2 linked regions of the Homo sapiens genome follow. The protein of the gene in region 1 interacts with the protein of each later gene in a pairwise test. Each region holds a gene or a part of one and is shown on either strand. Other genes may lie near its edges.

Region 1 (3,750 bases):
GTTATTTCAGTGCTGCACACTGAGTGTATTAAATAACAGTAACAGTAGCTAAATCCACAAACTGATGCAGGGACTATTTCTTCATGAATCTAATTTATAGAATTGTCTTGCTAGAATATGACAGAATTAAGTATCGGTTCATCATAAATACTCTTGAATACTGATGGGAGGCTTAGAAAACCTAGCACTGGTGCCAAGGTATGCCAGTGCATTGAGGCTGGAGCAAGCATTTGCATATGGCATGCCTGCCAGCCACAGGAGAGGGACTCAACTGGGTCCTGGCAACACATAGGACCACAGGGATTACTATTGCTTTTCCTTTTACACCAATGGACTATCATTTCCCCAGTTGCTGCAATCCAGTTAACAGAAGAGGAACTCTAGTTTGGAATACTAGTCTATGTAGCATGTGTCTCCTCTTTTGAGTCATTACATTAATCAACTCCGCTACTGTGAAAAGGGAGAAAAACAAACCTTCAACTCATCCCCAAAAGCAAGAGAAATTCCCAAACGAAATTAGTAGCAACTTCATCCACCCAATGCCACTTTCCTTTCCCATCAGTTTTCCTTTGATTTTTAACTGGAAGGGAAGTGACTGTTCCCCACTTCACTGCTAAAGAGGGAAAGAGGCTGGAAAGTTGTGAGGGGGATGAATGACTTTACTGCTTGTCTTCCCTTCCTTCCTTCGTCTAAGCATGCACACTCATGTACACTCTGAATGCAAGATACAGAGCATAGATGGTCAGGAACTTGGTGAAAACAAGAAATAGTTTCTTTTCACAAGGACACTTAATTCTGAAGCCCCATATATGCTCATTTGTATGATGTGTGAGATGCACAGAGGAATGTCGAAGCCGAATGAGTCTTCCAGATGCAATGGTTCTGTGACTGAACTCTGTTATAGCCACACACCTCCCATCTCACCTCATCTCTCTCACACACACACACACACACACACACACACACACTTGCTCATTTGAGTGAGATTGTCCAGTTCAGAGGATGGCAGTTAACCCCATCATTGTCTACCCTCATTGGCAAGGCAAATGTCACTCTTGTAGTTATAGGAAACAGCAGAAATTAGGAAAAAAAAATTTAATGCATGCTGGGCTTAATACCTAGGTGATGGATTGATAGGTGCAGCAAACCACCATAGCACACGTTTACCTATGTAACAACCCTGCACATCCTGTACATGTACCCCGGAACTTAAAAAATTTTTAAAAAAGTATTTAAAAATACACTTAGTCTTACTGTTATCATACATTAAAAATTGTTTTCCCACACTGGGCCTACCCTAGGCAAAATTGAGAAGATGAAAATATGTGCACTGATTCCTTCTCTCCATCCATCTTTCAGTGCCTGCTTCCCCTTATCCAGTTTCAGGGCAACCAGTGGCCTGGTAGTAAAACTACCTGCTGGAAGTCTGGGCCCACCCACCCTGGTAATGGGAGAGACTCCCATCTGACCCCAGGCAGTCTAATGATTGCGACACCTGGGCAACACCAGGCATTCTAATGGGAGAGACTCCTGCCGACCCTGTGTGGTGGGACTCCATGTTCTGGATTAGTCCTGAGTCCCTGTCTTATATTCTAGTTTCTCAGGAATCTACCAAGGGACTATTTCACCTCATTATCAAATCTTAACCTGATTCATGGTAGGAGGCACTTAGAAATATTAGTTCAGTAAATTATGATTGTGTCCATCTTTTAATGTTTCAAAGATAACATTTACATTTTAACACCTGCCTTCAATAACTTAAAGTGATGAATAAGGAATTTTAGTTGAGGCCATCAAAGAATATTTTTGAAATAAAGGAATCTATTTGATAATCTTTGAATTGTAGCGAAAACACAGTATTGCCTGTCTTCAAATTTTAAGCCTGACCATAATATTTAAATTTATTTACCATCTATCCAGTGGTAGCAACCTTAAGATCGGCTGACACAGATTATTCTGGTACCATAACGTAATGAACTTGATTCTCATCCGGAGTACATTTTTTATTAGTCTGTGGGATCAGAGGCAAAATTTGCAGCAGAGACAGTTCTGTTCATATTTAATTATAAGAACTGTCTTAATAACAAAAGCTGCTGTTTTTATTTCATCTTTCAGAGGCTAAATGCTACTTGAGATTGTTCTTTATGAAATGAAATGAACAGAAGTCCTGGGTCCAACTCTGTGGTGTGTGATTATTCTATTCTAGTTACTTCAAAATCCTGAGGACAAAATACAGCTTGAAATAGAATCTTAGAATGAACCAAAAGTAAGAAATAGGATGCGTTTCATGTCTCCCTGACTCTCAGCTGGGGCTCCATGGTTGCAGAGGACAGGAAGAAGCTGGTTGTGATAAGGGAATGAATCCTCAAAATCCCCTCTAGCAATTAACTCTGGAGGAAAAATAATCTGGGTCTCATTTTGCTTTAAGCATAACTCTTACTATTGAAAGCAGTCCTCCTGCAGTAATTACATCAATTTAGTAAAAAAGGAGGACCATCTTCTTCTGCATGCGAGTCTAGGTGATACCTACCTGTTGCTGGAACAGTTTCATTGGTGAGATCTTTAATAGTAATACTAGTATCTTAAAACACATTGTGGCAATGATTAGATTTATCTATACCTCATTTCCGTGAAGTTGGCAGAATGAAAGGAGGATAATGTTTTTATAGTAGAAAGCAGTAAAACAGACAACTTGGGAATAAAAATGATTGCTCATGTTTCAAGCTGGCCAGCAAGAAGTGACGATCTAAATATAAGAGTAGCTCTGGTTATTTAACTATAACTACAAGTTACTTAGGGAAAAAAAGTCATCCTCAAGGGCCCCTTCCAAGCAATTAAAGTTTGTCTTTGCAATGTGCTAGTGGGGCATCCTCTTTGGTACTGTATATAACATAGCTCTGTAGTATGTTATCCAGATTATTTTCTATTAGCATATCTATCAGGGTTAACTTCATTGCAGCTAGCAGGAAAAATAATGCAAACTGTTTTAAGATTGTTTTAAAAAATAATGTATTGGCTCCTGTAATGAAAAAGCAGAGATCATCTCATCAAGATTACTTAATCAGAGACTCAAGGAGTGCTATCTGGACCCAGTTTCCCTAAGTCTCTGAAAACTACTTTCCTGGGTGTTGGTTCTTTCCAGGTTATATATTGTATTAGTTTCCTAGGGCTGCTCTAACAAACTATCACAATAGAATGTACCCTCCACAGTTCTGGAGGTGAGAAGGGCGAAATCAAGCTGCTAGCAGGATGATGCTCCCTGGGAAGGCTCCAGAGGGGGAACTGTATCATACTTCCTCTCTTGCTTCTGATGGCACCTGTCAGTACTTTGGCATCCTTGGCTTTCAGCTGCACCACGCCAATACCTGACTCTTTGATCATGTGGTCTCTATCCTCTATCTCTGCATCTCTGAATTTCTCTCCTTGTAAGATGCCCAGTCATTGGACTTAGGGACCACCCAATCCAGTTATATTTTATCTTAATGGGATTACATCAGCAAACCCTATTTCTTTTCTTTTTATAACTTAAAGTTTTATTTTAGATTCAGGAGGAATATGTGCAGGTTTGTTACGTGGGTGTATCACATGATGGCGAGATTTGGGGTACAAATGATTCCATCACCCAGGTAGTGAGCATAATACTCAACAGTTAGTGTTTCAACTCTTCTCCCCAACCTCCCTCTTCCCTCTATTAGTCCCCAGTGTATGTTGCTGCCATCTTTATGTTCATGTGTACCCAATGTTTAGCTC
Region 2 (3,750 bases), on another chromosome or scaffold:
CAAGGGATTTGCAGGTTCTGAGGCAGCAAACTGAAACAAATTGCCTTAAGCCAATTGACTTCAGTATGCCCAGCACACTCACAGAAAACATGCATCAAAAAAGGGGCTGCATTAAACATGGGCCCTACTGGCAGAATGACCAGTTTAGGTATAATTTCCCTTAAAAAGCTCATGGAAAAATTCAGACTTGATTGACAATATTCTTTTATATTCATTCCAAGTATAGGCCACATGCCATTCAGACTTTGCAGACTGTTGAGCAGAGGATAAGAACTCTAGTAATGCTGTTATTGTAGGACTTCCGGCTATCCATTATCTGTATATACCAGTAACTTCCCTCTAACATCGAAAGCAAGCTTCAGAGAAAAGAAAAAGGCCTAGGAATCCTCTAAAGAGTTTTCCAAACAGCTTCACCTGTTCCATTGACAGAAAAATCTCAGGCAGCACTTAAAGCAGTGACAGCAATGAGGCAAGAGCTTAATGATAGCTATCATTATCAGCATGATTATTTCCATAGTCCCAGATCAGTCTTAAGAGGCGGCAAACAATCAGGTGATATAGTTTCAGGGCTAGATAAAGGCTGTCCCCTACCCTCAAATAATACTTCTACTACGGTTGCTGGTGCTCGAATTTTCACCCCCAGAAAAGAATTCCTTTGGCTTTAGGCTCAGTTTGTGAAAATGCAAAGTCAAGATTGATGGAATTTTAAACTTATTTACATCAAGATCACCCAAATTTGTTAGATATCTTCAAGGCAAGTTTGCTAAGGAAAGGAAAGGGAGGATGTGAGGGCATAAAAACAATCTTAGGGCAAAAATGGATAAATGAGGAGCCAGTTTTCCAGTGAGACAGACCCAATTATGCAAACAAGGGAGTGGGCTCCAGGGTCAATATTAATTCGCAAATTAGTGGCCAGTACCAATTTAGCACCATCGCTCATCTCCTTCTCAAAATCATCTATGATATAGCGGTGATGCTGCTTTATTTACAGGGCAACTAACCGAAAGGTCAGGACAACGAGTTTGCAATTTACAGTCTCTGGACAGGGTTGAAAGTCAGTTTTTTTTTGTTTTTTTTTTTTTTTTGAGATGGAGTCTTGCGCTGTCGCCCAGGCTGGAGTGCAATGGCAAGATCTCAGCTCATTGCAACATCCACATCCCGGGTTCAAGCGATTCTCCTGTCTCAGTCTCCCGAGTAGCTGGGACTACAGGCGCGTGCCACCACGTCCGGCTAATTTTTGCATTTTTAGTAGAGACGGAGTTTCACCATATTGGCCAGGCTGGTCTCGAACTCCTGACCTCGTGATCCACCCGCCTTGGCCTCCCAAAGTGCTGGGAATACAGGCGTATAAACTGTACTGAGCCACTGCGCCCGGCCGAGAGTCAGTTTTTACAAGCACTCAGATGTGGGCCCGAAAACAAATCAAAACAAAAGTCGTGACTTCCCAGATCTTAGGTAAGGCATAGATTCGTCTGCAAGGAGGGCCGAAATCTCTACCTATCAGGCAAAAGGCAAAAAGCCCGGAAGGGTCGGGGAGAAGCAAGCTGGAAGGCTCCAGGAAGTGGGTGGGGAGGAAGCTGCCGGGGTTGGAGCCAACCCTAGCAACAGCAGGTTTGCACACGCCTAGCAGAGGAAGTCCCGGGCCTAAGCGTGCAGCGGTCACAAGAGCTTTTGGCAGTGCTGTCCCCTTCGATTCCGGTCATCACCCAACCATCCAGCCCGGGTTTGGGGCGGAAAACCGGCTTGTAAAGTGGGCGGCGGCCGGTGTTCCCACAGCTGAGTCACAGCCCAGCCAACTTTTACAGCGTTTCCCAGAAAGAAAATACAAAGTCTCAGTCCCGGAGCCCACCGCTTCTAATTCCCGCTCCCCTGTGTCACCTGACCCGGGGTAACTCCAGCCCCACTACTGAGATATTTCCCACTCATGGCGCAACTTCTTGCCTGCGCAAAGCCTCGTGGTACCCCGAGCGCTCTCCAAGTGCTACCAACCCCACAGATGAGAGGGCAGGAGAGAGGGGAAGGGCTGCGTCCTCACCTGCAGGACACGGACACCTCCACCCGCGTGGCCGGGATGGCAGCGCTCAGCTGGTTCAAGTCCCCGATGCCCGCAGTGCTGTTGTAGCGGCTGTCCATATTGGGAGGAGGCGCCTTGGACTTGTCCGGCGCCCACAACCACAGCTCGGGCGGACTGAGGGCTAGCTCCCGTCAGGCGGGGATGGGGGTTGAGGGTGGAGGCAGAAGAAGGAGGCGGAGGCAGCGCGCGGGATGGGGGAGGGAAGGGAGGAGGCGGACCTCCGCGCAGAGCCACGAGGGAACCGCTAGCCAGTCCTGGGTGAAACTGACGCTGCCAGGCAAGTGGCGCGCGGGGATCCCGGTTTCCCAGCCCCCTTCCGGCAGGCAGCAGCCCGGGCGGGGGACACACTCCGTGATCCCCTCCTGGCTGGAGGGGTCAGGCTTGGTGGACCCAGCAAGCAGCCTGATGGAGAAGGTGGCACCAGACGCAGACCCCTACCGTCCAGGACCGCAAGCCCTCGCCGGCTCTGCGTGCTTTTAGGTTTTGTCTCCACCTCTGCACACCCACACTCGCCTCCTGGGCCGCGACAGCTTCCTTCTGTCAATCAGGTGTGGACGGGAAGGTCTCGAAGTTTCCTCGCCTGAGTTGAAAGCTGGAGGTGGGGGCACCTCTGCCCGTTCCTAACTGCCCCGTTATAAGGTCCCCCTCCCCACAATTGGTTCTCACCTCGCCCTCGGAGCTCTTGGGAGATCCCTCCGTCCCTCCTACTGTGCCCTCGGGCAGATGAGTCTGGTCCCAGCTTCTGGACTGCCCACTGTCGGCCACTTGAGAGTTGGGGACGGTGGGGCATTGTGACGCTCTCCAACCTTGGAACACGGTGGCAAAGTGGCCGATCAATATATGGGACAAGTGGGGGCGGGGGGGCGGACTCTAAGGTGGAAAAAACAATACTACTTGGGATTTAAGGAAGCAATCTGGATTCTGTCTCCCCTTGGTTCTTCGGAGCTTAGAGGTCTAACGGCGACATTCCTCCTACAGTAAGGGCTCTTCTGGGTCCCTCGTTTCCAAAGGCATGAAAGTTCTGACCTGAAAATGGGGGCCGGGGAGGGTGATGTCACAACCATATAACGCAGCTCCTTCAGCCGACTCCCACCCGCAAGAACTGAGACCTGACGGATAAAAGCAGAGAGGAGTCAGAGTGAGCGCTGCGTTTGGGAAACTGCATTCCAGGGCAGCAAGACTGGTGCCAAGACGGAGTCGTGGCAAAAGCATCCGGAGGTAGACGAGGCGCCCCTCCACTGCAGGGACCTTTGTTCCCCGCGCCTTCCCTCCTGCCTCACCCGAGCGCCTGCGGGTCCCGGGAGCTCGCCACCAGGCGGCGACGGAGAACAGGATGCGGCGCAGCTGGAAGGCAGAGGGTGGAGAGGGGGCGGGTGTCCGTCCGATTTAACGCTCCAAGCACGGAGTTTCCAGCTGGTTGGGCTAAGTCTGGGAGGAGCAGTTTTTGCGGTGGAGGACTTGCCTTGCGTTGTAACATTTTAATCCACTTGCAGCCTCCTGCCTAGAGAATCTATAGAGGCGGGTGAGAGTGTGTAGGTGCAGTCTTGCCGATTCCCCTGCCGAGTGTACTTCCCCTGTTTCTTCTTGCTTTCCTTTCCTGATTTCCCCACCCACCGCTTTTTCTTCTTTTTTTTTCCTTCCTCTTGTCCTATTACAAATTAAACTGTAGTTTACTG

The links. The genes of interacting proteins can lie anywhere in the genome.
Region 2: the proteins of NECAB1 (region 1) and CPNE8 interact in binary tests that used the Homo sapiens proteins (3 or more experiments, as listed by UniProt).

What each region holds. Positions count from the first base shown.
Region 1 is NC_000008.11:90,794,774-90,798,523, forward strand, and holds part of NECAB1 (N-terminal EF-hand calcium-binding protein 1), read left to right. Parts: intron 1-3,750.
Region 2 is NC_000012.12:38,903,402-38,907,151, forward strand, and holds the start of CPNE8 (copine-8), read right to left. Parts: upstream 2,191-3,750; 5' UTR 2,134-2,190; coding exon 2,036-2,133; intron 1-2,035. UniProt on the Homo sapiens protein: Probable calcium-dependent phospholipid-binding protein that may play a role in calcium-mediated intracellular processes.